2 separate regions of the Homo sapiens genome follow, and region 2 is linked to region 1. Evidence: fine-mapped expression QTL. Tissue or cell type: tibial artery. Region 1 holds a variant in brackets; the other region holds the start of a gene. All regions are shown on one strand. Distances are between the middles of the regions.

Region 1 (5,381 bases):
AATGGATGAAACAGATGTGGAGACAAATGATTTTAATACAATGTGAAGGCAGAAGTAAGCACAGAGGGCAGGAGGAGAACAGAAGAGAAACCCGGGATCCAGCTTAGGAAGTGAGAAAGCCGGGCAGGTTACCCAGAGTGGATGACTCAGTGCCCCGTCTCATCCCAGAAGAACTTTTTGCAGAGCCCACCTTTCCTCCCATTTTCCAATCAAATAGGAGAAATGAAAGTATCTCCTAGAGTTACCTTTTATCTTTTTTTTCCCCCAGATGCAGTGTTTATTGTTTGATTTGTAGTGCTTATTGTTTTTGGAGTTTAAATTCTCCCTGCATGTCTGATTTCAGGGTACCAACATGATGCCATTGAACATGGGACGTGATGTGCATAATCAGCTCTTGGGAACCTTCAGGTGTGGGCTACAGCACCTCACTGGACCGCTGGGTTCCTAGTAGAGTGGAGGAAGTGTTCACTTAGCCACAACTTTGCTTCACCCTGGAGGCCAACTGAGGCATGTTAGTATACCCTCTCCCTGTAGTTCTGGAGTGAGGACATTGGAAAGCTAAACAGTGGTGCTTGATTCAAGGTGCTTGATCTAATTTCTGTGGCCTTTGTCTGAAGAGGGAGGAATAAGAACGTGTCAACCTGGAATTCCCAGACTGGCTGATTGGGTCACATTTGGAAAGCTGCTGTGTGCACATCTGATTATCCTGCACCTAGGACTATGATTCATTTCTTCTTTCTCAGAACGTGTATCAGTTTGTTATATTGATTAGCCTGATTGTCTGAATAGTGTCTTTCTGTGTCAAATCTATGAAAGTTTGAACCCTATATGCTTTTGCTGAATACTGTATTTCCAATACCTAGTAATTATACCTAGACTGACACATAGTGGGAATTTTTTTCTTCAAGTTTAAGTGAAAATTTATTTATTTTTTTAAATCTCCAAAAGCTTCCCATTGTTTATTATTATTTTTATTTTATTTATTTATTTTTTAATTTTTAAATTTTTTTATTATTATACTTTAAGTTCTAGGGTACATGTGCACAACGTGCACGTTTGTTACATATGTGTACACGTGCCATGTTGGTGTGCTGCACCCATTAACTCGTCATTTACATTAGGTATATCTCCTAATGCTATCCCTCCCCCCTCCCCCCACCCCACGACAGGCCCCGGTGTGTGATGTTCCCCTTCCTGTGTCCAGGTGTTCTCATGGTTCAATTCCCACCTATGAGTGAGAACATGCGGTGTTTGGTTTTTTGTCCTTGCAATAGTTTGCTGAGAATGATGGTTTCCAGCTTCATCCATGTCCCTACAAAGGACATGAACTCACCCTTTTTTATGGCTGCATGGTATTCCATGGTGTACATGTGTCACATTTTCTTTATCCAGTCTATCGTTGATGGACATTTGGGTTGGTTCCAAGTCTTTGCTATTGTGAATAGTGCCGCAATAAACATACGTGTGCATGTGTCTTTATTAGCAGCATGATTTATAATCCTTTGGGTATATACCCAGTAATGGGATGGCTGGGTCAAATGGTATTACCTTTTATCTTAAGGAATAGAAGAGCGATTATGAGCATAGGCCTGGGATGCAAGAAACACATTCAAATCCCAGCTCTGCCACTTACTGTGTGGCCTTACACAAAATCGTGTGTGTGTGTGTCTGTGTGTATGTGTGAATTGACGGAGCTAATGTATGTAATGTGCCTCACCCACTGCTTTACATTCAGTAGATGCTCAAAAACATTGTAGCCATGGGCCGGGTGCAGTGGCTCACACCTGTAATCCTAGCACTTTGGGAGGCTGAGGTGGGTGGATTGCTTGTGGCCAGGAGTTTGAGACCAGCCTGGCCAACATGATGAAACCCTGTCTCTATTAAAAATACAAAAATTAGCCAGGCACAGTGATGTGTGCCTGTAGTCCCAGCTACTTGGGAGGCTGAGGCAGGAGAATTGCTTGAGCCTGGGAGGCGGAGGTTTCAGTGAGCTGAGATTGCCCCACTGCACTCCAGACTGGGCCACAGAGCAAGATGCTGTCTCAAAAAAAAAATGTAGCTATGTACACTTCAAAGTACACAAACACACAAATGCACATGCTGATGATGCTCAGTGTGTCTTCTTCCAGCAGCAAGTACTCAGATGACTTTCCTTGTTTGCCCTGCTGGCCCATCCCTGCTTGGGGGAGATACTTCACTTGGTCTGTCTCCATGTGATCTTTGAAGGCAGGTGTCTGAGCCTCAGCTCCCATGTGCCTGCTCCTCTCCAGTCCCTTCCCTTGTCTTCCCCAGTTGTTTAGCATCTTCTTTACCTCCAGTGTTCCTGCCAACATTGGTCCCTGGCTCATTGTCTGGTCTGAAGCTTATCATGGATCTGAATGTGATGGTTCTCCCACAGCTCGCTCTGTCATCCCTGCTGTGTTTTCCCTTATGGTGGCTGAGTGGTCCACTGCCATCCTGCATGGCACCCCCAGC[C/G]TCACCTGCTCCTGCCAGTGCTTGTGGTGGGACTTGAGCTGGAGCTGCAGCTGGAGGGCTCCAGCTTGCCATAGCTGCCCACTGTCCTTTCTAAATGTATTATTATTGCCTTGGCTAGGCCTCTCCTTTTCCTGGGACAGCAATCTGAGGTTTTCTTGGTCTTGAGGCCATATAGAGACCTTGATTGCCAGACTCTGACTCCCTGGGGAGTGCTTTCTTAAGTTTATAGCTTGGCCCATTCTGGAATGATGCTGTAGTCTTCCTCTAAAGCCTGCCTCCCACTTTCTCTGAGCCTTCCCTTGCTCCTGAAACAGAACGATTACACTGTTCTGATGTCCTTACTTTCTTATTTCTCACCTTTCCCTGTGCATTCTCTCTCAACCCTGTGGCAGCCCTCTGACCTCCTTGCATTTCTGGCGAAGGTCTATGCATGGCATTGCCTTCCTGCCTGCCACTCCGTTTGTCTCTCCTAATTACTGGGATTCTGTTTATACAGACTTCTCACTTTGGCTCTTTGGTTTTTTAAAAGTGATTTCTGCTTCAATTCAGCACTTTACCATTTCTCCTTCTCCTCTTTGTTATTTACTTCTGCAAATGGGATTATTAATTTTACTCTTTGAAACTTTTGGCTTTGTCCTCCCCTGATATGGCTTGGCTCTGTCCCCACCCAAATGTCATCTTGAATTGTAGCTCCCATAATTCCCATGTGTTGTGGGAAGGACCCAGTGAAAGACAATTGAATCATGGGGGCAGTTTCCCCCATACTGTTCTCATGATGGTGAGTAAGTCTCACGAGATCTGATGATTTTATAAGGGGTTTCCCTTTTCACTTGGCTCTCTCATTCTCTCTTGTCTGCTGCCATAAAAGATGTCCTTTGCTCTTCCACCATGATTGTGAGGCCTCCCCAGCCATGTGGAGCTGTGAGTCCATTAAACCTCTTTTTTTTTTTTTTTATAAATTACACAGTCTTGGGTATGTCTTTATTAGCAGCATGAGAACAGACTAATACATCCCCTGAGAGAGGCTTTTCTCTTATTGTCTTTCCAGATGACCCAGCCCCATTTGTCTTATGAAGGGTGAATAAGACTCCTTTTCTCTTCTTTTAAAAATTTATTTTTATTGATATGTATATTAGATATACATACTTTTGGGGTACAGGTGATAATTTGGTACATTCATGTAGTCAAATCACAGTAATTGGGACATCCAATACCTTTGTTAAAAACTTCAGTGGAAATAAATTTAAAGGAGTTTAATCAAACAATGAATGATTCATGAATCAGGCAACCCCCAGAATCACAGCATATTCAGAGAGACTCCAGGGGTGCCTTGTGGTCAGAACAAATTTATAAAAAGGGAAGTGAGGTACAGAAATAAGAAGTGAGGTATAGAAACAGCTGGATTGGTTACAGTTGGTGTTTAACTTAGTCCATGAGTAGTTTAACTTAGTCCATGAGTAGATGAAGTGTGGCCACTGGGATTGGCCAAGACTCAGCTATTGTTACAGGTGCATACTCCTAAGTTAGGTTTTCAATCTTGCCTGCCTATTAAGCTGGGTTACATTTTGTCCACAATCACTCATATATAGAAGTATGGAGTCCTTCTCAGGCCATATTTAATTTGCTTTAACACCTTAAATATTTATCTTCCTTTAAGCGAGGAACATTCAAATTATTCTCTTCTAGCTATTTGGAAATATACAATTGATTAATGTTAACTATAGTCACACTGCTGATGTATCGAATACTAGATCTTATTTTTTCCATCTAAGTCTATATTTGTACCCATCAATCAACTTCTCTTCATGCCCCTCTCCCTGTACCCTTCCTGGCCTCTGGGACATCCTTTCTCTTAGTTGGTGTTGTTGTTGGACTGATCACTCTGTCCTGACCTGGTAGGACTTTGCTCATTCCCCATCTCCTCTCCTCAGGAGAACACATGCCACACTCATCTTACTGGAGTCTGTGGATTCCTTAAAACAGCCTGGGAGATCTGGAGGGGTAGCAACTATTATTACTGGTTTTTAGTTAGGAAAATGAGACTTAGCAAGGAGGAAACAGGCCTAGGAAGGGAAACTCACGCTCCAAGCTCATGCAGCCAGTAAGGGAAGAACTGGGAAAGAATGCACACCAAGGAATTCCCAGTTCATTGCATGGAGGAGAGGAGGTGAGTGTGCTACTCAGAGCCCCTAACATCTGTCATCCTGTAAAAGCTATAATAAAAAGTCATAAATGCATAAACAGTGTGAAAAAGTTCAAAGGTAAACTCATTAAGTTCAGAAATATAAGGGGTATGCCTAGGGCCAAAAAAAAAAAAAGTCATCTAATTATGGGACGCACTAGCACAGTGTGGTAGAATGTTAAAATAGCTGAGAGGAGCCTGCAGAGACAGGGGCCTTGGGTGACTGGGTCCCTACTGCATGTTGGGAGCTGTTGGAAACACCTTACATGCATTATTTTATTTAATCTTCACAAGAGATGAATGACCTTATGAGGCTGGTGTTATTACATCCACCAACTCAAGGCGCAGAGAGGTCAAAGCACTTGCTCACAGTCACAGAGTGGCTTAGGAGCTGATTTGGGATGAGAGACCAGGTCTCTCAAATTCCATTTTCATGTGCTTGCCTCCATGTCACGATTTGCCCAGTTTGCTGAAAGACAGACCTGCACGTGGCCCCTACAGAAGAGATACATCTCTCTTTGGGAGAGGTTGGCATTGGGGAGGAAAGCCCTGCCCGTCAGCCCTCCTCCTGGCTGCAGCGCCCTGGCTAGCTGTACCTGTGGGTGTGACTCTGTGTAGCTGTCTTTCTCTTAAGTATACAGAGAAAAAAAATTTTTTTCCGTCGTGGGGATAAAGTTCAAGGAACAACCTCACCAAGAAGGTGGGGCTGAGTGCCGCCCAGCTG
Region 2 (5,381 bases), 24 kb before region 1:
AAGGCCTTAAATTTTGGTCACACTCTCACCCAAGTGAGAACCTGACCAAAAAGGGAGAATTTTTTTAACAAAATTATGAGAGGCCAGTGTTTTGGACTGACATCATGTGCTAGGCCCCAGCAAACCAAACAAACCAAAACACATAGATCCTAAAACAGACCAGGTTTTGTTTTTCTCCTGCAAACAGGATGTTCCACCATAAGGAGGTACCCTCTACTCAGTCCTTGTTCCCACTGTACAAAACTCACTGTTGTTTTACTGTTTCCCAGTGGGTTTCAAGACCAAATAAGTTCATTTATGATGGTGGTAGTGACATGAATGACTAAAGGTTTGGTCAATCTCTCAAAATTGAGAAAATGACCAAAAGGGGGAAATTGTTAAAGCAAATTAAATATAGCCTGAGAAGGACTCCGTATTTCTATATTGGAGTCTCTGTGGATGAACGGTAACCTAACTTAGGAATATGTGCCTGTAAAAATAGCTGAGTCTTGGCCAATCCCAGCAACCCCAAATCAGGCCAGGAGATAAGGTACTTAATAAAACGTGGAAGTGCTCTGGATAATAGTGGCCATTTTTTTATTGCCTTCTTCCAAACTTATGGAATCACTTCCTTTGTAGTAATTAGCAGAATGTTTCAATTCATCTCCATAATGAACATTCCTGACAGCATAAGTATCCACCCCCTGAAGTTCCTGTTAAATCTTTTAACCATATTCATTTCCTTTCACATAGAGACCATCAAGCTTCAGATGATCATGTGACAAAGTTTCCAGTCAGTTCCAAGTGAAGACACCACCCCTGGCCATCAGGATGCCACACTGTCTCCACTAGACAGAGTAGGGCAAGAGTTCCATGATCTCCAGTAGGTAGGAACTACGCCCCAAGTTGGCATAAAGCAGTTACAGTTCCTCTGCATCCCATAAAGATTTATGGGGGTCATGTCTCTCAGGAGAGAGATGAGGCAGGAGAATAGGGTCTGGAGGCAGGAAACCTAAGGGTTCACCTGACTTCCTAGAACTAAATCAAAAGGAAAACCCCAACTTTCCGCACCTAAGTAACAAACGGACCAGAGACTACTCCCTTTGCAACCCCCACTCCCCACTTTCTGCTTGGCAGATGGAAAATCTTTTGAAAGTACCTCTGATTGCCTTTCCGCAACCAATCCTGCGTTTGCATAGAAGTGTAACTTTGTAACTTCACTTCAGCCTCTGATTGGTTGTGGAAAGCAACCAGTCAGACTGATTGCGGCCAAATATTCTTTTGCATAGGAGTGTAACTTTGTAACTTCACTTTAGCCTCTGATTGGTTGTGGAAAGTAACCGATCAGACTGATTGCGGGCCAAATCTTCTTTTGCATAGGAGTGCAACCTTTGTAACTTCACTTCAGCCTCTGATTGGTTGCTTTCCACAACCAATCAGACTAATTGTGGCACCACTTCATTTACATGGGGTGAACGCCAAGTGGCCAATGGGAAACCTCTAGGAGGTATTTGGACCCCAGAAGATTCTACAGCAGGGGCTCTTGAGCCCATATGCAGGGGCCTGCTCCCACCTTGTGGAATGCACTTTTGTTTTCAATAAATCTCTGCTTTTGTTGCTTCATTCTTTCTTTACTTGCTTTGCTTGTGCCTTTTGTCTAATTCTTTGTTCAAAATGACAAGAACAGGCCGGGTGCGGTGGCTCATGCCTATAATCCCAGCACTTTGGGAAGCTGAGGTGGGTGGATCACCTGAGGTCAGGAGTTCCAGACCAGCCCGGCCAACGTGGCGAAACCCCGTCTCTACTAAAAATAACAAAAAAAATTAGTGGGACGTGGTGGCGCACACCTGTAATCCCAGCTACTTGGGGGGCTGAGGCAGGAGAATCGCTTGAACCCAGGAGGCAGAGGTTGCAGTGAGCTGAGATCGTGCCATTGCACTCCAGCCTGGGCAACAGAGCCAGACTCTGTTTCAAAAAATAAATAAATAAATAAATAAATAAATAAATAAAGGCAAGAACCTGGACACCCTCCACCCGTAAACAGCCAAGACTGTGCCACAGCACTCCAGCCTGGGCGACTGACTGAGACTCTGTCTCAAAAAAATTAAAATAAAACAACAAAAGTATGAACCAAAAAAACCACCTCTGTGGGCTGGATGTGGCCTTGGGGGTACCAGTTTGCAGACCCTGTGTCAAGCGGCCTAGGACCCAATCTGTATCCTTTGTTAACTGTCACCGATACTGACCTCAGACCTGGACCACTGGGATCCTGCCCTGAACCCCGTGCTTTAGTTGGCCCACTCCAGCTGGAGCGTATGTTCCCTTCTAGATCATGCTCCTGGTACCCTGGACTCCGGAAATCCCTGTGTAAACAGCCCTGAGCCTGCTTCCAAGGTCTGACTTCCATCCACCCAGGGCAGCCTGCCCTGCCTGGCCTGAGTATCGTTAGAATGAAGGATGGCAGGGTAGGGGGTGTGTGTTTGCCTGAACCAGTAGACCCCCTTCAGTATGTATGGGATGGAGTCGTGTGGGAATAGAAGCAGCAAGACTACTAGCAAGGGCTCTGCATTTGTACTCTTGCCCCTGGCTAGGCAGTCGCCAGGGGTGGGCCTGCTTCTCACTGACCCGTGGGTCAGGCTGTAAATAAGAGCGACCCTCGATTCACTCTTTACCCTGGGCCAGGCAGTCCGATGCATCCTGCATCCCATCATTCCTAATACCAACTCTGAGGATGCTGACAAGCAGCAGCCCCGTTTTACAGACCGAGGCACAAAGGCTGAACTAAGTTGTCCATAGCTAGTGAGTGGCAGAGGCAGGGTTTCAATGGGACAGTCCGTGGCGGAGCACACTGGCTCCGCCGCCAGCCCCCCTGCGGTACCCATCCGCGCTCGCCGCCTGGGACCGCCAGCCCGGGGCGGGGCGCAGGCAGGGACCCTCCGCTCCCCTCTCCGTCTGCCGCCCGGACGGGCCACCGCGGGGGCGCGAGGAAGGGGTGTTGGGTCGCCAGGGCCCGCCTCCCAGCTGCCCCGGCCGCCGGGGGGCCTGGCGGTGACGGCGGCGCCTGGCGGCGGGGATTTGGCGCGGGCCGGGGGCCGGGGGCCGGGGCGCGGGGGCGCGAGGCTGGATTCCTAGGGCCGCGGCGCTTCCCGGCATGCTCCGCTGCAGGCCCGCGCCCGCGCCCGGACTTTGCCATCGGCGGGGCAGTCGCGGGATGCGCCCGGGAGCCACAGCCTGAGGTGGGTGAGCCCCGCCGGGCCGGGCGGGCCGCGGCGAGTCGGGGAAGGGGACGCGGGGGCGCGGGGCCTGGCCCGGCTGCCGGGGAGAGGGGAGGCGGGTGCCGCAGCTTTGTTCTTGCCGCGGGGCCGCGCGCCCGAAGTTGGGGAAAGGAGTAGGAGCCGCGCCCCGGAGCGCTCCGGGGCCCGTGCGGCGCGTCCCGGGCGGGCTGGGGGTCCCTCCCTCCCGGGGACAGAGTGGGCGTCCTGGGTGGACGAGCACGGGGAAGCGGGTAGGGTCTTGGGTCTGTTCTGTCCTTGTGGTTCTGGAACCGGAGGGGAAGGGGGAAAGTAAGGGAGAGAGAAAGAGACGGAGAAAAACAGGAAAACTTACTCTTCAGTACGCAGGGAAGAATAGAGAAAGAAAAACACAAAGAAACGCCACGCAGACTGCAGAGAAGGACCACGAACACACGCTCCGAGAAACACACTCAGCTCACACGCACTGAGAAGCACACTTAAGATAAACACTCAGGTCACACACACAAGCACACTAAGAAACATTCAGTTCACACACACTCAGAAACACACGCACTCAGAAGCACACAAGATAAACACTCAGCTCACACACAGAAGCACACTCAGAAACATTCAGTTCACACACACTCAGAAACACACGCACTCAGAGGCACACAAGATAAACACTCAGCTCACACACAGAAGCACACTCAAACATTCAGTTCACACACACTCAGAAACACACTCCGAGAAACAGTTCACACTCGCTCAGAAGCACACTCAGCTCACACACACAAGCACACTCGGAGAAACATTCAGCTCACACACACTCAGAAACATACTCTGAGAAACACAATCAGCTCACACCCACTCAAGCACACTCAAGATAAACAGCTCACACAAGCACATTCAGAAAACACTCAGAAACATAGCTAACACTCAGAAACACACTCTGAGAAACACAGCTCACACACTCAGAAGCACACTCTGAGAAACAGCTCACACACACAGAAACAGAAAAACAGCTCACGCACACTAACACAAACACACACGGAGAAACACACTTAGAAGCACACTCAGCTCACACACACCCAGAGAAACACGATCAGAGAAACACTCAGAACGCACAGGAAGAGAGAGGAAACCAAGTGGGTGGTCTTGGAGGCCTGGGGACCGGGGGAGGGGAAGGAGAGACACTGAGAAGCGGGAGACGGGAGCAGCAGAGGGAAAGATGCCTGGAAAGAGAAACAGAGATAAAGGCAGACATAAGAGGAGGCAGAAAACACAAAGGCCAAAAGGAGGTGGTTAAAAGGACAGTAAAGAGAAACACACACGTAGAGAAACAGAGGCGGACCCTGAGAATTACCCCCCTCCCCCACCTACCTCTCACAAAATCAGCGACACACACAGAAGAGGCAGATGCCAGCCTTCTCCTTCTTGTGGTCCAGTGAGCTCGAGATGGGAGAGCAGCTCTGTGAGCCCTTTGAGAAAGGCTTCCTTGGCACTTTAAGCCAGGCATGTCCCAACCTTGTCTACCTGGCAAACTCCTGCTCATCCTTCAAAACCCAGCTCTAGCCTCACCACTCCTGTGAAAGTGTCAGTTCCCAGAAAGTGTCATGCAAGCACAGTTACTCTCTTTTCTGTGTTCTTCTGCAGGAAGCACAGGCACATGGAGTTGAAGTGGTTTGTCACCTGTCTGCCTCTCCCACCAACTCCTTAAGATCAGGGTCTCTGTCCTATCTATCTCCAATCTCCAGTGCATGATGCATAGTAGATGATCAATAAATACTTAGTGAATGGTGACCGAGAGCGTTTGGACCCTCCGAGACATGGAGGATAGAATTAAGTGCAAATAGAGGAAAAGCACCCTCCTGGTATTCTAAGGACTCCTAAGTCAGAGTGTCTTTTTTTCACGTGGGGAAATTAAAGCCCAGAGAGGGGAGAATGCTTGCACAAAGAGAGACAAGCAGGAGGCCTACAATGAAATAACAGTGAATATGTACTTCTGTGAGATGCCCTTGTTCTTCTGGCTTATGAGTTTAAAATAGGTGTGAAAGACCCCGTTCTTCAGTTCCTCTCTCCAGAGGCAGCTACTGTTATCAAGTTACATTTTATGTGTGTTTGTGCCTATCGATGTGTTCATACTAAAAAAATTCTGTGCACTAGTATATA

The links. PIP is the estimated chance that this variant, and not a neighbour inherited with it, causes the effect.
Region 2: it holds the start of TMEM98, and the variant in region 1 is the best candidate, but not a certain one, in a credible set for the expression of TMEM98 in tibial artery (GTEx, PIP 0.58).

The regions. Positions count from the first base shown.
Region 1 is chr17:32,949,415-32,954,795 of GRCh38, forward strand. No RefSeq gene overlaps it. Among named protein-coding and RNA genes, the nearest start is that of TMEM98, 24 kb to the left of the region's middle. The variant C/G (reference allele first, on the strand shown) is at 2,476.
Region 2 is chr17:32,925,023-32,930,403 of GRCh38, forward strand. TMEM98 (transmembrane protein 98) reads left to right here and starts at 3,131. Exons shown (of 8, transcript NM_015544.3): 1 at 3,131-3,215.